Homo sapiens: one gene and its partner. Each later gene encodes a partner of the first gene's protein in a complex. Each region holds a gene or a part of one and is shown in the gene's direction. Other genes may lie near its edges.

What was found. The genes of interacting proteins can lie anywhere in the genome.
Region 2: the proteins of RBM17 (region 1) and SF3B1 are in contact, whole or in part, in a crystal structure (PDB 2PEH), measured with the Homo sapiens proteins. Residues at the interface, in NP_001139019.1 of Homo sapiens: Leu309, Met312, Val313, Asp319, Asp321, Leu322, Glu325, Thr326, Glu329, Leu372, Arg375, Tyr376, Phe377, Gly378, Gly379, Val382; in NP_036565.2 of Homo sapiens: Arg334, Ser336, Arg337, Trp338, Asp339, Glu340, Thr341, Pro342.

What each region holds. Positions count from the first base shown.
Region 1 is NC_000010.11:6,091,543-6,099,311, forward strand, and holds part of RBM17 (splicing factor 45), read left to right. Parts: intron 1-5,505; 5' UTR 5,506-5,523; coding exon 5,524-5,646; intron 5,647-7,769. UniProt on the Homo sapiens protein: Splice factor that binds to the single-stranded 3'AG at the exon/intron border and promotes its utilization in the second catalytic step. Involved in the regulation of alternative splicing and the utilization of cryptic splice sites.
Region 2 is NC_000002.12:197,424,633-197,432,401, reverse strand, and holds part of SF3B1 (splicing factor 3B subunit 1), read left to right. Parts: intron 1-7,769. UniProt on the Homo sapiens protein: Component of the 17S U2 SnRNP complex of the spliceosome, a large ribonucleoprotein complex that removes introns from transcribed pre-mRNAs.

The sequences.
Region 1 (7,769 bases):
AAATTTTATCCTACTTATCATAAGTTATGTGCTTAAAAAGCAGATCTGCAGATCTCACTGTTTCATAATAATGTGATTTAAATAGGTGCACTAACATTTTTCATCCATTCACTAACACATTTAAAAAATATTAATAGAGCCACTTAACAATGTTCAAGCATGGTGCTGAGCTAGAGATACAAAGCTGAACATAAGAAACACCCCTGCCTTTAGGGGGCTTACACTGCAGGAAGAAACCGCTGTGTGAAACAATAGGCAGCATAACTTGCCAAGGTTGCTGTGATCTGAGTATGCTTGAGGAAACCAGTTGGGGGGGGTTAGTTTTATGTGGGGGCAATAGTCACTAAAGGCTTCTGAGATGCACTTGAAAGATAAGTAGGTGGGGTGCTTCTGAGAAGACTCTTCCATGTTCTTTTTCCTGCCAGTTGCACATGTTTTAAAAAAATACTTTCCAGCTTGGGTGGAATCTTGAAAACTCACCATTCTTCCTTCTGGCAGAACCATGTTTGTTATGTTTCCTAAGAAAAAATGTAGCATATATGAAACGTGGGTTGCTCAAAGGGAAGTGTTGCCACAAAAAGGAAGGAAATAGCAAATATTTTAAAGTTATAAAAACCAGCAATTTGTATTTACTTTTGATCCTGGCTTCTTATGGTATATCCAGTTGTTACAAAGTACAGCTTTTTGTTACCTGGCAGCAGACCTAATGAAATAAATGTGTTATGTTGTCTAAGTAATAATGTCAACGTTAATTAGGGTAAGTTTGGGTCTTGGCAGTCTTATTAATGTACTTATTACATTTCAGTAGTTGCGGTGGGGAGAATTAATGAACAAACTATTGTATATTAAATGCTTAATATAGCGAAAATAAAGAATACACACTTTTTAAGGAATAGATTAACTAAAACTGTAAATAAAATTAACATAAAAGGAGGAAAGCAAGGAAATAATGAGAAGAGGATTCCGGGGAAATTACATGAATGGGTTGGGGGAGTAGTATGGTTGAGTGTGGTTTCTTAGTCTAGATCCTGTCTTGTTTTGGGTGGTGAATTCACAGGTGCTTGCAGCATTATAATAATTAAACAAAAGCAGGTAATAAGTGTGTGAATGGATGAGAGTGTGATGTTACTATGATTAATCCCATTCTGTGAACTTAAAATTCAGTGAAAATGAGAAAAACGAAGAAAGCACTTTTGCATTTGCTGTGATGCAGAGATTTGATTTTATAAGCTCAATGTTACAGAAAACTAGCAGGTGCTGGTAAGATGACATCAGTTTCTAATATTTAAAGCGTTTTGCAGGTTTGAGAAGAGAAATGAGGACCTTTAAATGAGCATGAGATTTGCTGCCTGATGATTTCTGAAACTTTTGCGCAATGCAGCAAATCAACTGGAATTGTCAGTCAGCCATCTTAAATGACATGGAATCAGAGGAGATGTGTGGTCTCATAAAATCTCATTAATTCACTATTTAATTTTTGCTAAATATTGAATCTATTGATGGAAGAACTGTTGGCAGCTGAGATCTAGTACACTGCTAGATTTTTAGCCTCAAAGTTTAGAGAACTCTTTTCATCAGAGTTGACTCTTCTGGGGAGGGTGAGGAGTGTTGCCTCCCTCTCTGGGGGTTACTTCCTTCCCTTATTCCCCAGTGCTGCCTCTTTGCCTATTTATTTTTTATTTTATTTTTTTGAGACAGTCTCGCTCTATCATCCAGGCTGGAGTGCAGTGGTGCAATCTTGGCTCACTGCGACCTCCGCCTCCCGGGTTCAAGCAATTCTCCTATCTCACCCTCTTGTCTCAGCTGGGACAGGACTACAGGCGTGCAGCACCACACCTGGCTAGTTTTATATTTTTAATAGAGATGGGTTTTCACCACGTAGGCCAGGCTGGTCTCAAACTCCTGACCTCAAGTGATCCGCCCGCCTCGGTCTCCCAAAGTGCTGGGATTACAGGCATGAGCCACCGCAGCCGGCCCATTATTAGTATTTTAATAAAGCTTATTAAATGCTTGCTATATGACAGAAATTGTAGATGCAAAAATAAATAAGTGAATCTTTCCCCTCGAAGTTTAATGGGCATTTGGTTAACCCATTTCTGGTGGCACTAACGTATTCATAAACACTTTCGGTAAAGTTCTCAAGTTATAAAGAGAAATGGGTTGAGTATCCCTTACCCAAAATGCTTGGGACCAGAAGTGTTTCAGATTTCGGATATTTTTAGATTTTTAGAATGCCTGCATATACATAATGAGATACCTTGAGGATGCGACCCATGTCTAAACACAAAATTCATTTATGCTTCATATATACTTTCTACACATAGCCTGAATATGCAATATATGTCATACTTTTAATAATTTTATGCATGCAAAAAGATTTCACTCTGTTTTTGACTGTGACCCATCACATGAAGTCAAGTGTGGAATTTTTTTTTTTTTTTTTTTTTTTTGAGACAGAGTCTCACTCTGTCACACAGGCTGGAATGCAGTGGTGCAATCTTGGCTCACCGCAAGCTCTGCCTTCTGGGTTCACGCCATTCTCCCGCCTCAGCCTCCTGAGTAGCTGGGACTACAGGTGCCCGCCACCATGCCTGGCTAATTTTGTTTCTGTATTTTTAGTAGAGACGGGGTTTCACCGTGTTAGCCAGGATGGTCTCGATCTCCTGACCTCGTGATCCACCCGCCTCAGCCTCCCAAAGTGCTGGTATTAGAGGTGCGAGACACCGCACCCGGCCTGGTGTGGAATGTTCTACTTTGGGGTCATGTTGTTGCTCGGAACGTTTTAGGTTTTGAAGGATTTCAGATTTTCATACTGGAGATAGTCTGTATTGAGAAAAGCAAATATCTAGAGTTTAGTTTGAGTTGCAAACAAATTTTGATTTATCTTTGTGATTTCCCAGAAAGTCGCATTGTTTATTTCTCAGAATCTGTTAGTATTCCCTTTCCATTTTAAGAATAAAGAAAGAACAGAAGAACCTGTAGTTCAGTAGGCTTTGGTTTGCTGACCAGTTGGATGAAGAGGGCTCAAAAGATTAAACTAAGTTAGATGAAAGGTGCATGGTCATTTCTGAAGAAATGTGTTTGGGAGCCACAGTGCTAAGCTGGACACTCAGCATGGTTTTTCTGTGCTGTTGCTCTGTTTGAGTTTTCTTAGATTAAAATTTAAGGGTATGTATCTAGATGTGAACAATGAGTTTTGAGTTCTGGGTAAGCTGGAAGAAAAGTGTACAAAAGCCTCAAAAGCTGTTTGGTGCAGTGTTGTTCCTTCTGGCCAGTGATTATTGGCCAGAAATTTCTAATTGAGAGGGCTTCGCAAATGGAGTATAAACTGCAGTTTGGCCTCATTTCCTATTTAGCTGTGGGTTGGATATTGATCTTAGTCTGGGGATAGAGCAGTGAACAGAACAACCTGGATCTAGGTTTTCTTGGAGTTCAGAGTTATTAAACTAGGCTCTGAAGTGGACATCAGGGGATTCCCTCCAAGACTTTGAGGACATGGTTATATTTCATCCATATTTCTTAAGGAATGGAGTTCATTATTTTTTCTTGATTTGGCCTCAGTGCTTCAGGCCTGTCACGAGACATCCCCAAGTTCCTGAAAAAGGTCAGTTTTGCACTGAAGACATCTATCAGGAGGAGAGTCTGTCTGCATCCCGGCATCCCTTCATTCTTTTCTTTTCTTTTTTTTTTGGCGGAGTCTTTATCTGTCACCCAGGCTGGAGTGCAGTGGTGTGATCTTGGCTCACTGCAACATCCATCTCCCGGGTTCAGGCGATTATCATGCCTCACCCTCCGGAGTAGCTGGGATTACAGGCACCCACCACCACGCCCAGCTAATTTTTGTATTTTTAATAGAGACAGGTTTTCACCGTGTTGGCCAGGCTGATCTCTTAACTCCTGACCTCAAGTGATCCGCCCACCTATGCCTCCCAAAGTGCTGGGATTACAGGCGTGAGCCACCGTGCCTGACCATCCCTTCATTCTTATGTGATTCATTTGAGCAGTCGGCCATCAATACCCCTGGACAGTCTGCTTTCCCTGCTTCTCTACGGCCTTGCGGGGACCTTTCATTTAAAAATCAAAATGGAGAGGTTTTAGTTAATTTGAGGGTTCACGTATGAAGGAATGGAAGAAACTAAAAAGTGGTGACAGTTTTCTGGGGTGCTGACTTCAGGCAGGGAGTTACTGTACTTAAGACCAGGGCAGTTCTTCTGAGGGAACAGAAGTTGGTGTGCACTCCGTCCCCCACTCCACACAGTGTGGTACCAACATCAGCGAAGGTGTTGGGGCGGCAGGGTCTTAGAATCCCTGTAATGGGGGAGCTGAGAAGTAAGAGTACCTTCAAGAGAAATGCTTGCCGAATCAGACCTAAGGAGGGTATGTGTTAAATATTTTCCTCCTCTCCTGAGCCACAGAACACAAGCAAATTAGGCTTTTCAATAACACGGTTTCCATGGGAAAATGCTTTATGGGCCCCCTGGGAACTGACAGACTTATTTGTCCATAAACTGGGAACTACTGTGCTAAGCATTTACTTGCAATTTGTGGGTTTCTGTTTAAATTAAGTTCTCTTTCTGTCTGTGAGATTGATTTCTTATTTGAAGAAGTAAGCTATGTTGGTGGGTTTCAGAATGTTGATTTTTTTTTTAAAAAGTGGCAGTTGGGGTTCACTGGCGAGGGCTCTGGAGTTGGCCTGGCTGGGTTGGAAGGGGCTTCCGCTGTGGCCTTGGGCAGATTGATTCCCTAAACCCCAGCATCCATGTCTGTGCAGTGCTGGGCTTTCATGGGACCTGCTGCCGATGCTGCATTGCATGTCATGCTTTGCGCCTGCTGACTCGGTTTTTGTTTCCACGTGTTCCTCTGTTCTGCACGGAAGCTGTGTGTTGCTCGTTCACATGCAGATTGTTGATTGTCTCTTTGTAATCACTATCATTAAAGATGACAGATTTCCACTTGGTGTGATATGAGGAAATCAGAGTATTTAAGATGTAACCAGTCTACTCCCCCCTTGATAATTGTAATTGACAAAATCACATCTAAGAGATCATTTCTGTCATTTTTTTCCCTAGGAGTACGTTTAAATTTTTTCTTTATAAAAGGGTAGCTAATTGTGCTACATCAACCTGCTAATTGGTGTTTTTGTAAAGCTTCTACTTTTTGGCACTGACATAAATAGAATTTTTTAAAAATTGGATATATGTAATTAATAATGTTCCAATTCTTACCTCATTATGTGCCCTAGCATTGAAGGATTTCACTCATGGATCACTTGACTGCATGATCTTATAGATGGAAAAATGAATTTTAGAGGCTTATTTTAAAAATAATCCATGGTCTAGCTTCATGTATCAGGAATAGCCCTACATTAATGGTACCAGGAGCCTGGGCCTCTGTTGCTGAAAGGTCCTGGACCTTTTACCTCTAAAATTTCATGATACTTATTTTAACATGAAAAGCCTTTATTGAATTGTGCATTCTTTAATCCCCACCCCTTTTGCCTTTCAGCATTAAACTGAAGAAAAGATGTCCCTGTACGATGACCTAGGAGTGGAGACCAGTGACTCAAAAACAGAAGGCTGGTCCAAAAACTTCAAACTTCTGCAGTCTCAGCTTCAGGTGAAGAAGGCAGCTCTCACTCAGGCAAAGGTAAAGACAAGCCCAGAGCATGAGAGCAGAGGCCTCCAGAGTGGGTTCCTCATTAGGATGACAAGGAATTTGGTTTCAGCTTGCTCTTCTGCCTTTGTATTGGGTAAATGGTGTTAAGCATTTGTAGGGGGAGAGGAATGAGGAGTTTAAGGCCACTTTGCTACTCCTGGCTCCTGGGAATAGGAACATTTCGTGGGGTAGGAATGAAGAAAAACAGTACTCTGCGGGGGCTGGGCGCAGTGGCTCACGCCTGTAATCCCAGCATTTTGGGAGGCCAAGGCAGGCAGATCACGAGGTCAGGAGATCCAGACCATCCTGGCTAACAAGGTGAAACACCGCGGGCGCAGTGGTGGGCACCTGTACTGCCAGCTACTCGGGAGGCTGAGGCAGGAGAATGGCGTGAACCCGGGAGGCAGAGCTTGCAGTGAGCCGAGATCGCGCCACTGCGCTCCAGCCTGAGCGACAGAGCAAGACTCCGATTCAAAAACAAACAAACAAACAAACAAAAAAACAGTACTCTGAACCAGCAGTGACACTGCTTTTCAAACTTAAGTAGTGGAGGTCTAAGATTGAGTGAGAACTTGTTTAAGGTGCTAATTTTGTAGCCTTACTCCTGATATTCTGGTAAACTGTAGTTCAGGCTGGAGCCCCAGGAGTGGGAATTTTTAAGTAGCATTCCTACTGGTTTGGTGGAGGTAGTTTGGAAGCAGCACTTTGGGAAGAAGCTCCACAGAATACCTAAGCTGCTGCGTGCAACTTATTGAGGGCTCAGGTTGATTGTGAAGGCGTCAGGCATAGGTAGTCTGGATGCTGATTGCTTTTGTTTCTGTTGTGTACATGTTGGGTATTGGCAATGTCCTTGAAATAACATGTAAAACATTAAAAACCTAGTTGTCGACTGGATATTTGCCATTAAAATGTAGGCATGAGAATGGTATTATGGTTTGTTTACTACTTTAGAGATCTTTATGTTCTAGAGTATGCATTCGTAATGGAGGCTATATCCCCCCAAACAGAGCGAATATTGGTCTTTTTGGGGGTGAAAAAACCTTGCTCGTGTTGTGCACAGTGTATCTGTGGTGTGAAAATTTCATGTGCGGGAGAAAATTTAGTCAAAGGCTCCTTGCTGGGGAGGCAGTAATTAAAGTTGAGAAAAAGTACTTTAGAGATGTGTACTGAAATATTTACCGATAAGATGATGTCATTTTTGGGATTTACTTCTAAACAATTCAGTCCCGGGCAGGGGAGGGAGGGAAGAACAGAACTACCCATGAGTTGATAATTGTTGAAACTGGATGTGGATAGTAGAGACTTAAGAATTAATATTAATCTCTAATTTCATGTTTGAAAATTTCCGTAATACACAGGTTTTTTGTTTTTTTTTTTTTTTTTTTTTTTTTTTTTTGAGACGTAGTCTCACTTTGTAGCCCAGGCTGGAGCGCAGTGGCATGATCTCAGCTCACTGCAAGCTCCGCCTCCCAGGTTCACGCCATTCTCCTGTCTCAGCCTCCTGAGTAACTGGGACTACAGGCGCCCACCACTGCGCCTGCGGTGTTTCACCTTGTAAGCCAGGATGGTCTCGATTTCCTGACCTCGTGATCCGCCTGCCTTGGTCTCCCAAAGTGCTGGGATTACAGGCGTGAGCCACCGTGTCCGGCCAATACACAGGTTTTTTTTCTTAAAAGTTCTACTCATTTTTCTTTTCCCTTTACCACATCAATAGATACTTACATGGAAGTGCTTACATTTGATTGTTCAGTATTGTAGAGAGGTTTTTTTGTGTTTTTAAAATTCATCATTACCAAATTTAGATTTTTTGGATGCCAGTATTTTGTGTTTTTTTTAAAACAAGGTTTCATTCCAAATGTAAGGAGGGTTAGCAAAACCTCGTTTTTCTCTTTAATTTTTTTTAAAAGTACATTTATAAAATCTTTGTAGATTTCATGTAACTTTTGCTTTGCAGGGAAGATGCAGGTGTGAGCCACCGTGCCCGGCCTCATATAGATTTTTAAAACTTGAGGTAGCTTGTGAAGTTATTTCTACTAACTTTATAAAACTTTTGAGATTGCTATGTACAGTTAGTTTTGTGGGTTTTTTTTTTTAAGGGAAGTGAAGATTGCATT
Region 2 (7,769 bases), on another chromosome or scaffold:
CATAATCTTGCCATCCAGCAGTTCTTCAGATACTGCTGACTTTGGCATACAAACAGGGAACACACATTATTCTCTGTTTTGTAAGGGGAAAATGGTTTAACCAAAAATCCTACATATCAGCTTGTTTTGCCACTAATCCTTTGAATTAGATTTTTTGGGACATCACAAAGCTGAAAAAGTTTTTTCCCTAATTCTTTGCTTGATAAATGGCTGGAATAGTTATAGTTTTGTTATTGTGTATCTTGCTGATCTATATATTTTTTCCTGTGTTTATTTTTGAGACCGGGTCTTGCCCTGTTGCCCAGGTTGGAGTGCAGTGGCGTGATCATAGCTCACTTAACCTACAACTGCTGGGCTCAAGTGATCCTCCCATTTCAGCCTCCTGAGTAGCTACAACTACAGGCGTGTGCTACCATGCCTGGCTAATTTTTACAATTTTTTTTTAGAGATGGGGTCTCGCTATGTTACCCAGGCTGATCTCGAACTCCTGGGCTCAAGCAGTCCTGCCTTGGCCTCCCACCGTGCTAGGATTACAGGTGTGAGCCACGATGCCTGGCCTTGAAATTTTTTTTAATAGAATTAATCATTTAGGAATCAATTTATCAGTATTGTTTGTAGTGTTCAGTAAAATGATTTATATTATAGTTAGTTGTCCTATTGGAGTTTTGTTTAATGAAAAAGCTGAGGGTTGGGATTCAGAATATACTTCCTGTTTTTCTGTGATGTCTTTTAGAAGCCTTGTATTTTGGAAATAGTTGTTCACCGGTTATATCTGGCTGAAGGAGAGTAGATATCACTTAGGGACCAGACTGAAAGGTGTAGGTGAGACATTAACATCTGAGGGCAGTATCTGTGTAACATGTAATGAGCAGTGATTAGAACACTGAAAATAATTCAGACGAAAAATGAAAAATAAAAATCAAGGAGGAAGAAGTGCTACAAGTTGGGTTTAGCAGGATCTAAGGCTTAGAAAGAAGAAAAGGGCTGGGCATGGTGTCTCACACCTATAATCCCAGCACTTTGGGAGGCTGAGGTGGGCAGATCACCCAAGGTTAGGAGTTCCAGACCAGCCTGGCCAACGTGGTGAAACCCCCTCTCTACTAAAAGTACAAAAAAATTAACCGGGCATGGTGGCGTGAGCCTGTGATCCCAGCTCCTCGGGAGGCTGTTGCAGGAGAATCGCTTGAACCCAGGAGGCGAAGGTTGCAGTGAGCTGAGATCACGCCACGCCACTGCACTCCAGCCTGGGCGACTGAGTGAAACTCTGTCTCAAAAAAAAAAAAAAAAAAAAAAAAAAGAAGAAAAGGCACAGGAGGGGAAATCAGAGGGACAGAATTGGTGGGGAGCAGTTAAATAGTTTTATCAGATGTGACCTTCTGCTATCAGTGATATGAATTGTTTTTCTCAAGAGCTTGATATGTAGGTCTGAGTTTTAAAATACAGGAGGCCAGGGGTTGCTCACGCATGTAATCCCAGCATTTTGGGAAGTCAAGACAGGAGGATTGCTTGAGACTGCAAACATACAGAAAAGTAGAGAGCGGCTGGCGCTATACTCCAGCCTGGGCAACAGAGCAGGACTCTGTCTCAGAAAAACAAAACAACAGGCCGGGCACAGTGTGTGAAGACAGGTTTTAATAACACTAGGGTAGGCTGGGCACGGTGGCTTACGCCTGTAATCCCAGCACTTTGGGAGGCTGATGTGGATGGATCACCAGAGGTCAGGAGTTTGAGACCAGCTTGATCAACATGGTGAAACCCTATCTCTACTAAAAATAAAAAAATTAGCTGGGTTTGGTGGTGCGTGCCTGTAATCCCACCTGCTTGGGAGCCTCAGGCAGGAGAATCTCTTGAACCAGGAGGTGGAGGTTGCAGTGAGCCGAGATCGTGCCACTGCACTTCAGTTTGGGCAACAGAGTGAGACTTTGTCTCAAAACAAAATAACAAAAAAAACTACCGTGAGTAGTAAAATGAACCCCTCATATACTCATCACCTAGCTTCAACAGTTACAAGCTTAGGCCAGCTTTGTTTAATTTGTACACTGGTCACTTCTACTCTTCCCATTATTTTGAAGCAGATCTTAGACATACCACTTTATCCATAAATATTTCAGTATGTATTTCTGTGTAGGGACTTAAAAAGATAATACCATGATTACACCTAAAATTAAAATAATAAAATATCTAGTCACTGTTCTGTTTTACCCATTCTTTTAAACTTTGTTTTTCAGTTTCAGTCAGGCTTCCAAGAAAACTGATAACATTTTGATTGGTTGGTTTCTCTTATATCTTTTTCATTTCACAGTACATTGTGATTTAATGATTTATCTCTTAAATCTTTTTCAGTTCATAGGTTCCTCCTGTCTCTTTCTTTTTCCTTGCACTTCATTTGTTGCAGAACCTTTGTCCTGTGGTTTCGCACAGTCTGGAGGAATTGGGGAAAGTGGCTGTCTAAACTGGTTCCCTCCTTCCCATTACTGCTGCAATCAAGATGTTAGGGGGCCTACAAGCAATGGAAGCACCCAGAAAATTATTGGCTCTAAGTATGAGCATAGTTCTGAAATCATACTTCAGGTTTAGATTGTGCTAGTCATGGGAAGGAAATTTTTTTTTTTTTTTTTGAGACAGAGTCTTGCTCTGTTGTCCAGGCTGGAGTGCAGTCGCACAATGTCGGCTCACTGCAAGCTCCGCCTCCCGGGTTCAAGCGATACTTCTGCCTCAGCCTCCCGAGTAGCTGGGACTACAGACGCGCGCCATCACACCCAGCTAATTTTTGTATTTTTAGTAGAGATGGGGTTTCACCACATTGGCCAGACTGGTCTCGAACTCCTGACCTCAGGTGATCCATCCACATCGGCCTCCCAAAGTGCTGGGATTACAGGCGTGAGCCACCGTGCCGGCCTGCCTTAGTGTTATTAAAACCTGTCTTGACACAAAAACCTCTAAACAAATGTTTACAGTAGCCTTACTTGTAATCACTGCAAACAGCTCGATGTACTTCAGCTAGAGAATGGATAAACACACTGTAGTACAATGGAATACTACCCAGTAATAAAAAGGCAGAAACTATTGATGTGCACAACAGTGTGGAAATTGGAATATTTAAGGGTTTAAATGGGTTAAAGAGTGCCAGCTTTTGGCAGTTTTGTGTGGCCAATAGGAAGTCCTAGTCTCTTCTTGCTCAGTCACTAGCAGACAGTATCCCTTTTTTCTTTGTCTTCACATCTGAATGTATTGAACTATGAGTCCAAACTGGGAAGGGATTAGGCTGGAACAGGATTTGTTCATTTTGGTCATAATTGAAGTTGGAAGAGATTATTAGCATAGACGTTTCTTTGCCTCAAGTCTTCATTGTTTTTGACCTCTGGTTACTCATTTTGGTATGTTCTCTCATTTTTTATTTTCATAGTTGCCAACCCCCGCCTTTTTTTTTTGAGATGGAGTTTCACTGTGTCGTCCGGGCTGGAGTGCAGTGGCGTGATCTTGGCTCACTGCAACCTCTGCCTCCCAGACTCAAGCGATTCTCTTGTTGCCCAGGCCAGAGTGCAGTGCTGTGATCTCGGCTCACTGCAACCTCCACCTCCCAGGTTCAAGCGATTCTCATGCCTCAGCCTTCCAAGTAGCTGGGATTACAGGCGTGCCACCACCATGTCTGGCTAATTTTTGTATTTTTAGTGAAGACAGGGTTTCACCATGTTGGCCAGGCCGGCTTTGAACTCCTGATCTCAAGTGATTCAACTGTCTTGACTTCCCAAAGTGCTGGGATTACAGGCGTGAGCCACCGCGCTCAGCCAGTTGCCAAGCAGTTTTATGCATTGATCATTTGTTGTCAGAAATGATCTATTTGCATATTTTTAGTCAGTTTATATTTAAGAAATTATAGGAATACTTACACACCAGGCTGTAACTTAGTGTTGGTTTTGAAAATACGGAGTTAGAGACAACATTGTTATTCCCAGAGATAAAAAATTTGAAGTGGAATTTTACAAACCTTGGCTGGCATGGATAGGGGAGAGAAAAATTTGGAAAATTACTTTTAATTACTTCTACAGATTACCTATTTATTTATTTACTTACTTATTTAGAGGCAAGGCCTGGCTCTAACACCCAGGCTAGAGTGCAGTGGTGTGATCTCAGCTCACTGCAACCTCCGCCTCCTGGGCTCAAGCCATCCTCTGACCTCAGCCTCCTGAGTATCTGGGACTACAGGTGTGCACCTGTAGTGACTAATTTTTGTATTTTTGTCTAATTTTTGTAGAGACAGGGTTTCATCATGTTGCTTAGGCTGGCCTTGAACTTGTGAACTCAAGTGATCTGCCTGCCTGGGCATCCCAAAGTGCCCAGCCTCATTACCTTTTAATTAATTAATTAATTAATTAATTAATTTGAGACGGAGTCTTGCTCTGTCGCCTAGGTTGGAGTGCAGTGGTGCGATCTCGGCTCACTGCATCCTCTGCCTCTTGGGTTCAAGCAATTCTCTGACTCAGCCTCCTGAGTAGCTGGGATTCCAGGCACCCACCACCACACCTGGCTAATTTTTATATTTTTAGTAGAGATGGGGTTTCACCATCTTGGCCAGGCTGATCCTGAACTCCTGACCTCGTGATCCACCCGCCTCGGCCTCCCAAAGTGCTGGGATTACAGGCGTGAGCCACCATGCCCGGCCCAGATTACCTTTTATGAAATATTTTAACATGCAGAAGAGAATAGGACAAAATATAATGAACACTAACCCACTGCTCAGCTTTATCAGTTCTTCATTTTCTGCCGTATTTTTTCCCACCTTTTTATTTATTTTGAAAACGAAACCTCAGACACAAAGTTACCTTATTTATGAATGTCATGGTAATAATTTGTTTGCTCATAAATATTTGGGTATGTTATATTTGGTATTTTAGCACATAGTTTATTAAGAAATTTCTGAGTTTTTAGTTCTCTGAATTGCATAATAAGCTGCTGAGTTTTATGGAATCTGACGGCTTAATTTTATGGATCACATGGTGTATGTGTAAATGTGCTGCAGTTTGCAGTGTGTTAACAAAGCCCATTAAGCTGTTTGGACTTTATATCTATAGTTTCCAGCAGACAGAAAACAATGCCTGATTTGCATATAAACATTTAATTGTACTGCCTATAAGAAGTTCAGTAATATACTCACCTTAGGATTAATTAACTACAAACAGCTGCCTAGCCCCAGGAGATTTTGGGCTGGGTAATTTTGTTACTAAATTTTAATAAGAACCTAGTCATGATTTACATAGATTTCATACCAACACTATTTCAGTACTTTATGAACCTTTGTAATTGGAAAACTCTGATGCTAATCAGCAGGTACATAAAATCAATAGTTAAAATTCAGTAGCTGAAATTAGTTCCAGAATAAGTGTTATCCAAATGAGAAACTAGTTGCTGAAACTTCAGGATGGAAAAGTTGTTTAGATGGAAAATAAGAGAGATGCCTGATAAGGGGGAAAAAGCAAGTTGCACAATATGTGTAGTGTGCAGTTTTTATAAAACAGCACCCCTTTCCTGTTTTTTAGTTGTGTATGAGGTAGAGAAAAGTATAAAATGATGCTCTAAATTGGAAAATTTGGTAGGGGTGGGCTGGGGTTGGAAATGGGAGGGGTGAAGGGCCAGGTAAAATAGTTTCCTAGGGTGTTTGTTAATGATGCAGAATCCTGGGCTTCACAGCCTGAGTTGGAGTTTCAGAGTTAGTGTATCCAAGACCTAAGGTTCTACCTTTGTAACAGGTGCACCAGGTCATTTCTTTGTAGGTGGTCCTTATACTAGACTAATGCTGTAGAGGAGATTGCAGACTATTTCTCCTGATTCATCCATTTGTTTCTTACCTAAATCCTCATGGAAGTAGCATTTGTGGTCCTTTTACAAAAACCTATTTAGGTAAAAGTGATAAATGCACCTGTGGTTTAAAAAAAAAGCCTGAAGCTGGGCGTGGTGGTGGGCATCTATAATCCCAACTATTTGGGAGGCTGAGGCAGGAGAATGGCTTGAACCTGGGAGGCGGAGGTTGCAGTGAGCCGAGATCCAGCCACTGCACTCCAGCCTGGGCAACAAGAGCAAAACTCCGCCTCAAAAAAAGAAAAGAAAAGAAGATGCCCGAAGGGGGTGGGAGTGGGGCAAATGTAGATTAAATTTTTCAAAATATGAAACTACAAACAGAAACAAAAGTAGAGATCATAGTAAAAAGAACCACCCTGCTCATGTGAGGATATTTCTGGCTGCCTGGGCTGCTATAATGGTTTGGGGACAAAGTAACATCTGTGCATGTAGTGGTGCTGTGTAACACAACACACTATAATAATTTTGAGATCCGATCACAACTGGGGCTGCTAAACTCAGCATTAAAACTATTCTATCATTTTGAGTTTCTTTCTTTCTGTTTGTTTCTGAGACAGTCTCTCTCTCATCCAGGCTGGAGTGCAGTGGCAGCAATCGTGGCTTACTGCAGCCTTGACCTCCTGGGCTCAAACAGTCCTCCCACCTGAGCCCCCTAAGTGGCAGGGGACTATAGGTTTGCCACCATACCTGGCTAATTTTAGTATTTTTTGTAGAGATAGGGTTTTGCCATGTCGCCCAGGCTGGTTTTGAACTCCTGGGCTCAAGTGATCCGCCCACCTCAGCCTTCCAAAGTGTTTGGATGACATGCGTGAGCTACCGCGTCTGCCTCCAGTTTGTGAGACGTGCTCCTGTTCCTTTCTTATGTGGAAATGTGACCCAGCCGTGCCTTAGACTAGATAAGGACATTTTGTTATCCTGCACATCTATCTTGAGGAACTATAGAGGGCTTTCTCCCTTAGCTGGGGGGGTGGGAGGTTTTGCAAATACAGGATGCTATTTGAATCTTTATCTTTTGATTCATGCAGCTAGCAATTGAGCTTTTTTATTTTTTATTTGATTTATTTATCTATTTATTTTTTGAGACGGAGTTTCGCTCTTGTCGCCCAGGCTGGAGTGCAATGGCGTGATCTCGACTTACTGCAACCTCCACCTTCCGGGTTCATGTGATTCTCCTGCCTCAGCCTCCCGAGTAGCTGGGATTACAGGCGCCTGCCACCATGCCCGGCTAATTTTTGTATTTTTAGTAGAGACGGGGTTTTAGCACATTGGCCAGGCTGGTCTTGAACTCCTGACCTCAGGTGATCTGCCCACCTCGGCCTCCCGAAGTGCTGGGATTGCAGGTGTGAGCCACTGCGCCCGGCCTAATTTTTATTCATTTATTTATTTATTTGAGATGAGTTTTGCTCTTTGCCCAGGCTAAAGTGCAGTGGCACGTGATCTCGGCTCACTGCAGCCTTGGCCTCCCGGGTTCAAGCAGTTCTGCCTCAGCCTCCTGAGTAGCTGGGACTAGAGGCGTGCGCCATTACACCTGGCTAACTTTGTATTTTTACTGGAGAGGAGGTTTCACCATCTTGGCTAGGCTGGTCTCGAATGCCTGACTTCAGGTGATCCGCCCGCCTTGGCCTCCCAAAGTGCTGGGATTATAGGCGTGGACCACCGCGCCCGGCCAGCAAGTAAGCTTTTTAAAAGTGCCTGGTGTCAAAGGGCTTAATTCAGCATGGGCTGGCAAGAATTTAAACAGCTATTTGTCAGGCCATGGAAATCTTTTGCAATCGAAACTATTTCTTTATACATCTATGTATTATTTAGATTATTAAAACAAAACATTACTTTGCAAAATTAACCTGGTGTCAGGAAAGACTACAAAATGGAAGACTAGTCTGTATTTAAAGAAGAGCAAAGAGTGACAACTA